2 linked regions of the Homo sapiens genome follow. The protein of the gene in region 2 purifies or fractionates together with the protein of the main gene of each other region. This does not show direct contact. Each region holds a gene or a part of one and is shown on either strand. Other genes may lie near its edges.

Region 1 (3,818 bases), on a different chromosome or scaffold from region 2:
CGTATATGAATAACATGAAAACAGGACTAACAAATGTAACATCAGGAAACAGAATTAAAGGCAAAATATTTAAGCAGAACAAATTGGCTAATTACATTTGGATGAAAGTTACAAACCATAATGAAGGTAAAATAGTTGCAAACCTTTGTTAACTGAATAGAAAAATTTAAATACATAAAGTCAAAACTTAGATATTCTAGGAAGAAGTGGACACAAATACAATTGTATCACATCACAGAACAAGCTAAAGCAAAACAAAAAAAACACCCTATGACTTATAAATGAAAATAAAGAAATCAAGTCAATCTCTTAAATAAACCCTTGGATCAAAGGAGAAACAAAAATTATAATTACAGGCTATTTAGAAAAGAATGGCAATGAAGAGTAGTCCCAAAACTTAGGATATGAGGCCAAAATGGAAGAACATATTTTGTCCTTAATAAGAAGACTTAATACCCTTGAAACATTAGCTATACCAAAATTAATATATAAACACTAGAATTCTAATGTTTAAAAAACCTGGATACAAAATTTTAAATTTCACAAAAGAAAAAATGAGAGTTGACAAAAAATTATATCAAATAAAAAAGCAACATGGGAAGGACTTTTATGTATATCTAAGATCTAGTGTAAAGCTATATGGTTTGGATCTGTGTCCCCACCGAATCTCATGTTGAAATGTAATCCCCAGTGTTGGAGGTGGGCCCTGGTGGGAGGTGGATAGACCATGGGACAGAGTTCTCATGAATGGGTTAGCTCCATCCCCTAGGTTCTGTTCTCAAGCTAGTGAGTTATCATGAGACCAGGTTGTTGAAAAGTGTGTAACAACTCCCTTCCCACTCCTGTTCTGGCCGTGTAAGACGTGCCTGCTTCCCCAGGACTGTAAGTTTTCTGAGGCCTCCCCAGAAGGAGAAGCCACTATACTTCCTGTTAAACCTCTTTTCTTTATAAATTACCCAGTCTTAACTATTTCTTTATAGGAGAATGGACTTATACAAGCTAGTAGAATAAAACAGAATAGCTTTGCTATAGAATGATGGATAGGACAGAGAATTAGAAGTAGATACAGGTATATACAGAAAACTTAGTATATAATGAAGGTGGGAAAACGATGACTTATTATTATAATATTTAGTAAATGGTGCTGGCAAAATCAGCTATGCATCTACAATAAAATAAGATTGAATTGAATTTATACTTACTATTGCATATTATATGGCTCTAAAAAGTATCTGTTGGAACTATATCATTTTTTTCTAAAGATTGTAAAAGAGAAATTTAGTTAAGATAGAAGAGCAAATATCGATGAAACCAGCATGGCATGATCCAAAAAAATTTTAAAACAATCAAACATCAAAAGCAAACAGACAACAACAAACCCACCATAAATGCATCCACATGTTTGTGTGGTCACGAAAAGAAAGGAGCAATAGGACCAGGTTAGGCCACGAACATGAGTTATCTGAGAGTGGGGGTTATCAGTGTTTTCTTGGTAGATCTCTGTGTTGTTTCACTGTATAAAATGAACACTTCTTACTTTTGTGGTTTGGGGAAGATAGATTCAAGAATACAGTTTTAGTGAAGGGGCCTCTGGTGTGTCGTCTGATTGGTTGCTTTCTTGACTGTCAGATCTTACCACATAGGACTGGTGAGAGCTGTGGTGCAGAGAATAAGCCTTCAAGGCCGGACAGAGGACAAGTAGCTCTGGATGCCCAGGACCATGCTAGGTGGGGGAGTCCAGGCAGGTCAAGATGCCAGGCTGCCAAGTGCAAGAGCTTGGGCTTCTGGTCTTGCCTCTGTCACTTTCCCTGTAAGTGCTAGGAGAAGCCAGTTCCCCTCTCTGAGTCCTGGCCTCAGACCAGCAGGCATAGGAACATCCAGGCCGGATTGTCCTTATCATTCTCATCGACACACGCCCCCTTACCCAATGCTATGCCTAGCCGCATCAGGGTCCATGGCCAGCACTGTGCCAATCAGAGGCTTCTTCTGGTTTTCCTTCAGCTGGAAGTGGTAGAAAGGCTGCTGGAAAATGGGGGGCTCGTCCACATCTGTGATGTTGATAATGACCTGGGCTCTGTTTCCCGCGGGAGGGCTCATGTATCGGAGGTCGATGGTGGGGTCTGTGGCCTCGACGATGAAGCTGTATTGCTGGATGTATTCATAATCCAGAGGCTGCGTAAGGAAAAAGGATGGTGAGTGCCTGCTCTGGGCCAAGCATGTGTGTGGCACATGATCTGCACAGCAACTATGCAAGGTAGTACCAGGATGACACCCATTTTATAGATGAGGGGCCCATGGCCTCGACAAGTGATATTTCTGAGGTCATCAAGACAGCGGCTGGGCCTGGTGTCTGTCTTCAGCTGCTCCCCATTTCATCTCAGCAGCCTCATGGCCACACCCACAACCCTGGCTGTGTGCCTGGCCCTATTTCCAGCGTTTGGGACATAGAATGGATCAACTATGGTCCTGCTCTTAAGAGCGTCACTAGTGGTTCTACCCACAGGTCCTTAAGGACAGGCTTTTTCTTTGTTCTTGAGACAGAATATTGCTCTTGGTACCCAGATTGGAGTGCAATGGCACGACCTCCGCTCACTACAACTTCCACCTCCCAGGTTCAAGCGATTCTCCTGCCTCAGCCTTCCAAGTAGCTGGGATTACAGGCACCTGCCACCACGCCCAGCTAATTTTGGTATTTTTAGTAGAGACGGGGTTTCACCATATTGGCCAGGCTGGTCTCAAACTCCTGACCTCAGGTGATCCACCTGCCTCGGCCTCACAAAGTGCTGGGATTAGAGGCGTGAACCACCGGGCCCGGCCGGACATGCTTTTTCTTTATGCCTTTGCTCAAGATCCTTCTCCTGCCCTTGCCTGCCTAGAAAACTCCTACTCATCCCTCAGGAAGCCAAGCAGAAGGTAATCAGATGCTCTCTCAGAAACCCCTCCTAGCAGAGGTAATTGCTCCCTGTTCAGAGCTGCTGTGTATCACTTACACCTGGCTGTACTTTTTTTGTTCATGCATATGTCTTCCCCATTCGCTGAGACCTTTGCTGACACTGGAGGCTGTGTCTGCCTCTCCTTGGTGTTTCCAAGCCCCAGCATGGGGCTGGTTCAGAGAAGGACTCAGGCCCAGGACTTGCAATCCTCTGCATGGCCATTCCAGAGGCATTTTTTATGCCCCTCACAGGACCTCTCCCTCCTCTTCCAGATTCAGTTAATCTGGCTTCTCTGGCTGTCAGCAGCATCCAGTGTCAGTGGCCATCCATGTCACCACAATTACTCACTGTTTTCTTCATGCTGATGGATTTCTACTGGCCAGGACACATGGCAGGCCAGAAAGTGCCAGAGAGGTAATAACTCCAGGGGCAGCCCCCAGTCAACACCACGGACAGCGGGTGTATAAATACCCCAGCTCCTTCACCCTCAGCTTCTCCAACTCTGGGATGTGTTCCACACTTACCCCGCAGTGGGTCATTGCTCCTGGGGCTTCCTGGGATCACCTCCCAGATAAACAATTTACACCCAGTCATGGCCTTAAGATTTGCTTCCCAAGTAACTCGGCCTAAGACACTGGATCACAGTCTCCATGAACACATGACCACCTTGGAGCTTTGATGGTCCTTTGATGGTCTCTGGCCCAGGAGCAATCCCCAAGCAGGACCTGTGGGTGCCAAGAGCCCCAAGCCTCACGTTTGACATTGTTGCCATTGGCCTACAAACCTTCATGGGCTTGATGATGCCCTCGTTGTGGGCGGGGTTTGTCTCAATGGTGAAAGCGTCCTGGTAGTCGCCCCGCAAGATGCTGTACTTGGTCATCCGGT
Region 2 (3,818 bases):
GGCTCATGCCTATAATCCCAGCACCTTGGGAGGCCAAGGTGGGCAGATCACGTGAGGTCAGGAGTTTGAGACAAATCTGGCCAACATGGTGAAACCCCATCCCTACTAAATATACAAAAATTAGCTGGGCATGGTGACATGCACCTGTAATCCCAGCTACCTGGGAGGCTAAGGCAAGAGAATTGCTTGAACCTGTGAGGTGGAGGTTGCAGTGAGCCAAGATAGCACCACTGCACTCCAGCCTGGGCAACAGAGTGAGACTCTGTCTCAAAAAAAAAAAAAAAAGTTTTATTGGAAATTATTTAAGAACACAGTGAAATTATCATGCGTAAAAAATGGATGTTAAAAATGGGTATTAAGGCCGGGCGCGGTGGCTCACGCCTGTAATCCCAGCACTTTGGGGGGCCGAAGCAGGTGGATCACGAGGTCAGGAGATTGAGACCATCCTGGCTAACACGGTGAAACCCCGTCTCTACTAAAAAAATATATAAAAAATTAGCCAGGCGTGGTGGCGGGCGCCTGTAGTCCCAGCTACTCAGGAAGCTGAGGCAGGAGAATGGCATGAACCCGGGAGGTGGAGTTTGCAGTGAGCCGAGACCGCACCATTGCACTCCAGCCTGGGTGACAGAGCGAGACTCTGTCTCAAAAAACAAAACAAAACAAAAAAACAACAAGAAAAAAAAACAGGTATTAAAATGTTTATGGTCCCAGCCTTGTGCTACAGATGTATGCATGTTTGTGAAAGGATGACAGGGAACTTAACAAAGGGTAAGAGTGATTACAGCTATGCAGTAGGATTCAATATTTCAAACTTTTCTGCTCTTTCTCCCTTTCCCCAGTTTTTTAAAATGACTATGCACAATTCTATAACTGGGAAAAAAATCACTACGCATTAGAGGGAGCCACACTGACCATGAGAGAAGCCTGGACTCAGCACTCCACAGGCCTGCTTCAGGAAGCTCTGGACCTCCCCATTCCTGCAGCTGCCCCTTCCCAGCAGGGCGACCTTCCTGAGAAGTACTGACTTCCTCTGGTTCAAAGCCAAGTCTCTCTGGTTTCCAGGTCTGCTTAGACACCCTTGGGGACTAGAACCCAGTTCATTTATTTGTCCAAACATGACAAACAATAAGATGGAAGCCACAGTTCCAAGCTCAAGGAGCTCAGAGCCCGGTCAATAGATGGATTAGGAGACAGTGTGGGTGTAGCACAGCTGAGGTACATGCACATGTGACAGGAGGGCCTGGCCCAGGTTGCAGGGGGCAGGGGAGTAAGGTGGGGGTGAAGGCTGGTTCCTGGCGGCCAAGAGGCAAATGCAGTGGCAGAAAGGCATGAACATGGCCATTCACTATGGCCCTTTACAGTGTGAGGTCAGGTCTTGCTCACCAAGCTAAAGGGGCTGGATTTTATCCTCAAGGCAGTGGGGAGCCACTGAATGATTTTAAGTTGGGTGGAGGCTGGGCATGGTGGCTCCCGCCTGTAATCCCAGCACTTTGGGAGGCCAAGGTGTATGGATCACCTGAAGTCAGGAGTTTGAGACCAGCCCGGGCAACATGGTGAAACCCCGTCTCTAATCAGCTGGGTGTGGTGGCGGGAGCCTGTAACCCCAGCTACTCGGGAGGCTGAGGCAGGAGAATTGCTTGAACTGGGAAGGTGGGGGCTGCAGTGAGCCGAGATCACGCCACTGCACTCCAGCCTGGGTGACAGAACAAAACTCCTTCTCAAAAAAAAAAAAAAAAGTCGAGTAGAGACCCACTAATGTCACTCTAAGCCTCCAAAAGTCTCTCCAGCTGTGGGGGTAGAGAGCAGACCTGAGGGGGCAAGATGGGAAGTCGAGATGCCAGATAGGAGTGATCTGAAGCTGTGAGACAAGAGTGAATATGGGCTCAGTCCAAGAGGGGGCTGGAAATGAGAGGGAGAGAATGAAGCAGGTCTGGGGAGCCTTAGGATGGACTCAGTAACCCATTAGGTTCCTGAGGAAGAGAGGAGTCGAGGCTGAGTCCTCGGGCGCCGTGTACTTGCTGGGCATTGGTCAGGGCAGAGCACAGGTGGAAAATCCATGTCAGCTGGGCATGGGTGGCTGTGGTGATGCTGGCCAACAGTCAGCTGGCTATGTTCTCTGTTGAGATCACAGCACTGCGTGTGGAACAGGGAGAAGAGAGGGGGCAACCCTGGAGGATGACAGCCCTGATTGAGGGAAGGGAGTGGGAAACAGCCAGTGAGGGGTGACGTGAAGGACAAGGGAGGGAAAGGAGGCTGTCATTGGTGGTCTCAGCCCAGCAGAGGCCAGGCAGGCTGGGAACTGGGGGGCCACTGGGGCCTCTGCTGGAACCACCTGGTGAGCCCGTAAGGGGAGGCCCCCACCCCAGGGTCTCCAGCACCTGCCTGGCTCCCCATAGATACTCAACAAATGTGACCGAGGAAGGAATCGAAGGGTAGGGGGTAAAGGGGTGCCCACGGCCCCCTCCCTGGGCCTCAAGTAAGGGAGCAGTGCCCCAGGTACCAGACCCATCCAGCCCTGGAGGGGAAGCATGTGCAGGGCTAAAGGTGGCGGCCAGACCCTCAGGACCAAGGTCGGGTGCTGTCCGTTGGAGGGTCTGCCTCAGACCCCCTGCTAGAGGAGTCCCGGGGTAGATGGAGCCTCCTCTGGCTCAGGGAACACCTAAAGCAGCCTGGAGCATTTGCTGAGAGACAGCGCCACCTAGTGGGCAGGAGGTGCACGCCAGGCCATTACCCACAGGCTCCAGGCCTTTGGGGTTCATTATGGCAGTCTCTGCACCCTGCTCTGGCCCCCGCATCCTGCCCCAGTCCCTGGAGACAACAATCCAGGGCTTCTTCCACCTAAGCAGTGTCTGAGCCTCTGACAGCAGGATCCTGCAGCATCAGCTGAGATTGGCTCTGCGATGGAGAAGGTGGGCAGGTGAGATTTTAACAGAGATCCATTTGCCCACATGGCACAGGCAGATGCAGGGTCCTGCCCTCACATGGGTAAGCCCAGTATGGGACTGGGCTGATTGCAGTTCTGCTGTTATTGTTGTTGTGTTTGTTTGTGGTGTCGTTAGGCTCGCAAAGAAAATAAATATGCTTATGAAACTCTTCCAGACATGGCTGACCCCTCCCCTCTCCACTCCCAGTCCACAGAATTCTCAGAACCTCCTGCAGCTCAGGTCTGTGTGGCTCAGGCCCCGGCAGCCAGGTTAGAGGTATCTTTATGGAGGTAGGGGCAGTCCACAGGGCGCCCCAGCAGCAGGGAGTGACTCCCACCACCTATTCCGCAACGATTCCCTGGGGTCTTCCCTGGCTCCAGCTTCAGCTCCAGAAGACCCCTCCCCGGAGAAAGAAGTAGCTGTGGACAGACACCACCCACCCAGAAGGGCCTGGACTCCACGGCCCACACAGTTGGTCACAGCTGCCAGCTTGCTCCTACTGCTCAGCAGTTTCAGGGCAAGGTCAACAGCTAAGTGGGGTCACTGACCTTCCTCAACAACTTGGCAGAGCTCATTTTTATTCTTAACTGTGGGTTCGGCTAGGCAAGAGTTCTCCTAAAAATATTTTTTTTAACTTTCCCTTATGACAAAGAAACAAATGTACAATGTTAAAATATTAGTTTTACAAAAATGTGTGACTTGGAAAGTTAAAGTTTCTTATATAGTCCTATCCCCTAACAATTATTATTATTATTATTTTTTGAGACAGAGTCTAGCTCTGTTGCCCAGGCTGGAGTAAAGTGGTGTGATCTTGGCTCATCGCAAGCTCCGCCTCCCAGATTCAAGCGGTTCTCCTGCCTTAATCTCCCAAGTAGCTGGGTAGCTGGGACTACT

The links.
Region 1: the proteins of CTNNBIP1 (region 2) and CDH5 purify together in Homo sapiens (co-immunoprecipitation; one study listed by IntAct). This does not show direct contact.

The regions. Positions count from the first base shown.
Region 1 is NC_000016.10:66,390,490-66,394,307, reverse strand, and holds part of CDH5 (cadherin-5 preproprotein), read right to left. Parts: coding exon 3,718-3,818; intron 2,173-3,717; coding exon 1,925-2,172; intron 1-1,924. UniProt on the Homo sapiens protein: Cadherins are calcium-dependent cell adhesion proteins. They preferentially interact with themselves in a homophilic manner in connecting cells; cadherins may thus contribute to the sorting of heterogeneous cell types.
Region 2 is NC_000001.11:9,864,960-9,868,777, forward strand, and holds part of CTNNBIP1 (beta-catenin-interacting protein 1), read right to left. Parts: intron 1-3,818. UniProt on the Homo sapiens protein: Prevents the interaction between CTNNB1 and TCF family members, and acts as a negative regulator of the Wnt signaling pathway.